Regions from separate parts of the Homo sapiens genome. Here region 1 is linked to region 2. Evidence: fine-mapped expression QTL. A gene starts in region 2. The other region holds a variant in brackets. All regions are shown on one strand. Distances are from middle to middle. Region 1 overlaps CYP39A1 (cytochrome P450 family 39 subfamily A member 1). Region 2 holds the start of TDRD6 (tudor domain containing 6).

What was found.
Region 1: its variant is fine-mapped to the expression of TDRD6 in tibial nerve (GTEx, PIP above 0.99). The same link has a PIP of 0.9 or more in atrial appendage, gastroesophageal junction, nucleus accumbens and sigmoid colon.

What each region holds. Positions count from the first base shown.
Region 1 is chr6:46,629,209-46,632,122 of GRCh38, reverse strand. CYP39A1 (cytochrome P450 family 39 subfamily A member 1) reads left to right here. Exons shown (of 12, transcript NM_016593.5): 6 at 1,053-1,160. Among named protein-coding and RNA genes, the nearest start is that of CYP39A1, 22 kb to the left of the region's middle. The variant T/G (reference allele first, on the strand shown) is at 1,561.
Region 2 is chr6:46,686,399-46,689,312 of GRCh38, reverse strand. It overlaps TDRD6 (tudor domain containing 6), which reads right to left and starts at 1,428. Exons shown (of 4, transcript NM_001010870.3): 1 at 1-1,428. The coding sequence starts at 1,184. It overlaps TDRD6-AS1 (TDRD6 and SLC25A27 antisense RNA 1), which reads left to right and starts at 1,148. Exons shown (of 2, transcript NR_134643.1): 1 at 1,148-1,379.

The DNA of each region.
Region 1 (2,914 bases), 57 kb after region 2:
TTTCTTAAAAATAAAAAAAAAAGATAGTAGTATCTGCATCTTGGAGTTATAGTGAGGAGTGAAATGGGTTAAATACTTGCAATACACTTAAAACAGTACTTGCCCTTAGCAAGCAGTGAGTTGATATTAGCTCCCATTATTTCTATCACCTAGACATAAGTTATTTAAGATTAAAAGTAGATGAGTAACTTAATGAAAATGTTACAGTGTCTGAATTTTTTCCCATGATGGAGAGCCGTCACTGGCAAAGACAAATCTGGGGAAACCGCCCGATGAAGAAAATACTTTAGTGGGATTTGTTTGGTGACTTGAGAACAACATGTCTTGAGATGGGTAGCCTTGGATGGGGCCCTGCCCTGAGCTGTCACTGTTCAAGTCAAATGTCCGTTCTCTGTATGGTTTTAGAGTATTGTGGTATTTGTAATATTCTGGCTTGGCAGTTCTGTCTCCCATGGTGAATGGGCTGAGAATCTGTATGGTGGATGGGGGTGTAGTTTTCTCCTGAATGCACCAGAGATGTGTGTTTCTCTATTGCTTGCATTTTGCTAAGAGCAGAGGTTTATAAGACAGGGATTCCAGAGCAGTGTGGAGGGCAGAGATAATAACACACAATTTGCCAATTCAGTTTGGTAAAGTAGAGATCCAAAGTGCATTTTACCCTCTGAAAGGTTTTATTTTAAGCACTTTTTAGGTACTAACTCATTTAATTCTCACAACAATCCTACGAGGTAGGTACCATATTATGAACATTTTATGGATGAGGACACAGAGGCACAGAGAGATTAAAGTAGCTTGTTCAAGGTCATCCAGCTCTTAAATAGCTGAGCCAGGATTTGAACAAATGCAGTGAGGCGGTCAAGCTCCAGAATCCCTACTCCTAATTACTATACTACAGTAAGGACATAAATCCCTTCACATGCCTCAAACTGCAAAACCTGGGAATGGCAGAAATGATATCTTTCATATTAAAGAAAAAGGCATGATCTCTTGTTTATTAACATCGATATTTGTCACATAGCCATGGTTTGGCAATGTTTATTTCTTTTAAACAGACATTATTGCAAGCTACGCTGGATATTGTAGAGACGGAAACAAGTAAGGAAAACTCACCCAATTATGGGCTCTTACTGCTTTGGGCTTCTCTGTCTAATGCTGTTCCTGTAAGTATATTAGTAAAGTATGAGTTACGTTGCTCTCCACTGTCCTTTCATCTTTTTTTCCTTCATTTCTGTCTTCCATTCTTTTTTCCACTCATCACTCATTATGGAAAAGAAAAAAACTACAGTGGATTTGGTTGTGAGATAAAAACCAAAACTGAATGCCTAATGAAATCTGATTAGGTTACAAAGGAGACGAAACAGATCTCAAGCAAATTCTGTCCTCTGAAAGGCAGTGTGTAACAGGATGAGGGAAAAGCTTGCCCTTTGGGGCCAGTTGTAGACAACATCTGTTTATGGAACACTTTTTGTATGTCTACCAATGTGCTCAGTATTGGTATTGAAAAGATGAATAGGGATTGGCCACATGCTTTTATTGGAAAGAGTAAGTAAATGGATAGTT[T/G]CAGGTAACTTGGGCTTGGATCCAGACATCCCAATTTGTAGTTGTAGACTGTCATGGTGGTAATTTAAATTTTCTGTGCCTCCATTTCCTAATAAGAGATAATGTACTATTTTACCTAATAAGGGTAAAAAAAGGGATAATGTATGTGAACCTCCCACTGTGGTCTTAGAACTTGGGTGCTCAATAAATGGTAATTCTCATTTCTCTACAAAGTTGTTATGAGGATTTAATAAGATAAGCCTAGCTGGTATCAATGAATATTAGCTCTTTCTCTCCATTTGTACCCATTCTCCTTCTGTGTGCCATTCCTGTTTGCATTGCTTAGCATTATGGTCCTACAAGCTTCCGCATGAATGGTGCTGGTGAAATTGGAACTTTCAACACTTCTAAAGAGAGGCAAGACTTAAAAAACTGTTTTTTGTGGGTTTTTTTGTTGTTGTTGTTGTTTTGTTTTGTTTTGTTTTTTTGAGATGGTGTCTCATTCTATCACCCAGGCTGGAGTGCAATGGCGTGATCTCGGCTCACTGCAACCTCTGCTTCCCGGGTTCAAGCGATTCCCCTGCCTCAGCCTCCTGAGCAGCTGGGATTACATGCGTGAGCTACTGGGCCCGGCTAAAAAACTGTTTCTTTTAAAATCTGTCTTGCATTAGATTAGAGCCATGAGATTTGTCTGTCACGTCATGTTCAGTGCCAACAGTTTCCTGGGCCAGGAGGTTCTCACATTAGCCTAAGATGCTACTTATATTATCTGAAATTAAAGGGTAACTTTTTAAATATACTTGTTTTCTACTAAACAGGAGGATTTAACCTATCCATGATGATATGTGTGGGCATTTTTCTTCCTTTTTCTTCTAACAGATAGAAATTAGGAAGATGTTTTAAGTATTATTTATTTAGCCTTACTTTTATAAAGGCCTAGGTTGTTAAAGGCTTTCTCAGTCATGATATTCTAGTTTCCCTTAACTTGTTGAAAAATTTACTGCATAAAGAGAAGGGATAGAAATTCTGGCCTCTTTTCTCAAAGGTATGTTAGCCAGTGGAATATACATTTCATCTGATATGGTCAAGTAAAAGTAGTCTAAACCCTTCCCCTTCTTTATGTACCTATAATATTCTTCTCTGGTTTTTCCTTAAATAATATTCTTGGAAACTGATTAAGCTATAGCAAAATTGAGAAACAAACATCAAAACAACTCTCAAAGTAGCAACAAAACAGGCACTCCTGTCAAAGAATTATTTTTCAATATCTTGTTAGAAACATCCCCCGGAAGAAAGACACACAAAGCCCCATTGATCTGACACAGGGGAAGTCGGTTCTTTGGAATTTGTTCTTGGCGCTGGTCTGAAAGGATTT
Region 2 (2,914 bases):
TCACCGACCTGTGACCGAGACCAGCCTCTCCCACCGTCCCAGAGTCCATACAAAGCACAAGGGTAGGTCACCACCGGCATTCGAAAATATTCAGGCAGCAAGTACCGAAGGCTGCTGCAACTCACTAACTCCTTCCTTCCATAGTCCACATGAAGCACCTGGGCACAGCGCTGGGGCCGAAAAGTCTCAAGCAACAGTGCTCTGTACCAATGTCCATCCAGGCCACAGGATGCACACGGAGAGCCCGGCTTATCTGGGCTCTCCTCCCTCTCCTCCCAGGTGGCACTGGTAGAGTTCTCATCCCCTGTCCCCGTGGAACCCCGGTATACCTGGGCCATGCTCTCGGAGAGGCGGTGGATCTCCTGCGAGACGCTGCGGAGCTGGCAGTGAATGCGGTGGGGATGGCACACTTGGGTTATGACCACGGCCTCCGTCACGCCCAGCTGCAGCTGGGGATAGAAGTAATCCAGACCAGGCTGCTTTTGCTTGAGCGGGACTCGCGAGAGAACCGGGACCCCGGAGCCCACGCTAGCAGTGGCCGCTGTGAGATAGCGCTCCAGCAGCGAACGGAAGAGGCTGTCGGGCACCCGCCGAGCCAGGCCCAGCTCCCGCATCTGTTGGAACACATCAGGCACCTCCAGGAGGACCAGGCGATGGAGCAGCAGCACGTCCAGGACGCACCCGTGCACCTCCTTGCCCTGAAGGTTGCTAAGGAAGTCCACGGCGTCGGCGGGCCAGTGCTGCGGCGGCTCGCCTGAGCCCGCGCCGCAGCCTGCCGGCACCAGGCCCGCTAGCACGCAGCCCAGCACTTCCGAGGGCAAATTGAAGAACTCTCTGCGCCCAGGCGCCAGCGAGCCTGCTCCGGCCGTGATGGTGCGGCCCTCGTCCAGCAGGAAGACACGGCTCTCCTGTGCCTGCCGGCTGACCACGCGGCAGCGGTGCCACAAAAGCCCGACCTGCACCAGGCACAGCTCGCCGGGCGAGGCCGAGGCGCTGCCCAGCGCCCACTGGCCGCGCGTGGCCGCCGCTTCCTGGATTTCCCGGCTCAGCCGCAGGTACTCGCCCCGCCGCTCGCCCACCAGCCCCCACAGCTGCACCGGGATCACATCGGGATGCACGTCCACGAAGGACACCCGCAGGGCCAGCGAGGCCCCCGGCGCCGGCATTCCGGGCGTCGAGCACATCTTGACGGCGCGGCGCGGCCCCCACTTCCGGAAATTAAGGGCCGCGCCTCAGGGCCTCGAAATCCTCCGCGCCGCCTGAAGGCGAGTCCCAGCCAAACTAGGTTCAAAGGACCCAGTGGAGGGGAAGAATGCCGGCGAGGCCTTTTCTCGGCAACTCCCCCGTCGAGGGTCCTCCGGGACTCCCGCCACGGACTGGTAAGACCCGGTAGCCCCTCCAACCGCCCGAGGTCGCGCTTCCGGGCACGCATTTACCTCACTCGGCGCCGCCACTTCCGGCCGCGGAGAGTGGGCGGGGCCAGCCGAGGCCTGGGGTTGGCCTAACGCCTAAGGGCCCAAGGAGCTTGTTGGGACGTTCAGGAGACCCCGAGGTGGGAGGTTTTGGACACAACCTGCATCTCCTCAGAGCGCCTTCGACTCTGGAGGCCGCCGTGTGACGGCCTGACACAGGGCTGCGGTGAGGACCGACCAGAGAGGGATTTCCTTTTCGTCCTCCCAACTACCAGGGATTGAGCACTGGGGGCCAGGCAAGGTACTAGCCAGTGGCGTTCCCGACGGGAACGAGAAACGCAGGAGCCAATGGCACGTTCCTAGGCGTTAAGGCCGGAACTCTAGGAGGGCCCTGGGTGCTGCTGCGGGGCACGGGTGCTCCTGCTGGCTCAGTGTGTCCGTGGACAGCCAGGTGCTCAGCCTCTATTCTTTAACCCTGTTCCATCATCTGAATTGATAAGAGTTGTTATGAGGTTAAAATAACGTGTGAAAGTATATAGCAACTGGTACATATTTCCCTTCCCACACTTAGCTGATACGGGTTCCTTTGCTCCTTTGCTGTCTAACTCTGGCATCCCAATTTTGAAGGCATTTTCATTTACTCACAGAGCTAGCACAGAACTGGATTCATAAAAGGAGGCCAAGAGGAATGGAATCAACATTCCTTCAAGCCCCTGCTGTATATACTAAAATCTTAACAGGATAACCCTTTGAGGCCTCTGTTAAATGTCCAAACCTCCATTTGGAATGGAAAAGTGCAGGCAAACTAGAAGTTTCCAGGATATGTCTACATTAGATTTTTGTTCATTTGCAAAGTTAGACACATCCGTGGAAGCTTCTTATAGTCTGCCTGTACTTTTCCTTTCATTCCACGTTTCGAAATGTCATTACATACAAATACAACAAGGCAGTGCTTCAAATGACCCTGGCCTAACTGTAAATCTCAGTGTCTTCAGTCTGTCCAGATTAGAGGCAACCATGTGCTTCCACATCACCCTATGCTTACTTTTTCACGGCACTTTTCACATTGTGTGGCAACTGTCTGATCTCTATCATCCCACCAGCCGACAGGTTCCCTTTGGCAAGTACCGTTTGTTGGATTCTCGGAATCTAGCTTGGAGTGAAGGCAATGAATATTTGCTAAATGAATATGAATGAATGAATGAATGAATCCAATTTCTCTAAAAGCCAAAGCTTTTCTTTTCCTGAAGAACTCATCCTTGAAAACTCAATTTTCCCATTTTTTTTCTAATTGTTTCATATTCATTATGGAAGAAAAACATTTTATTTAAAAACATCTAGCAAGACCTAGCTCAAACGTCGTTTCCTCGTGACCCTACTATTCAACCTGGCAGAATTGGTTATTCCTTTTTTTTTTTTTTTTTACATACTTCTATATTATTATATTTTGTAGCTCTCTGTTTGCCACAGTAGGAACATCTTAAAAGCAGGAACACTTCTCA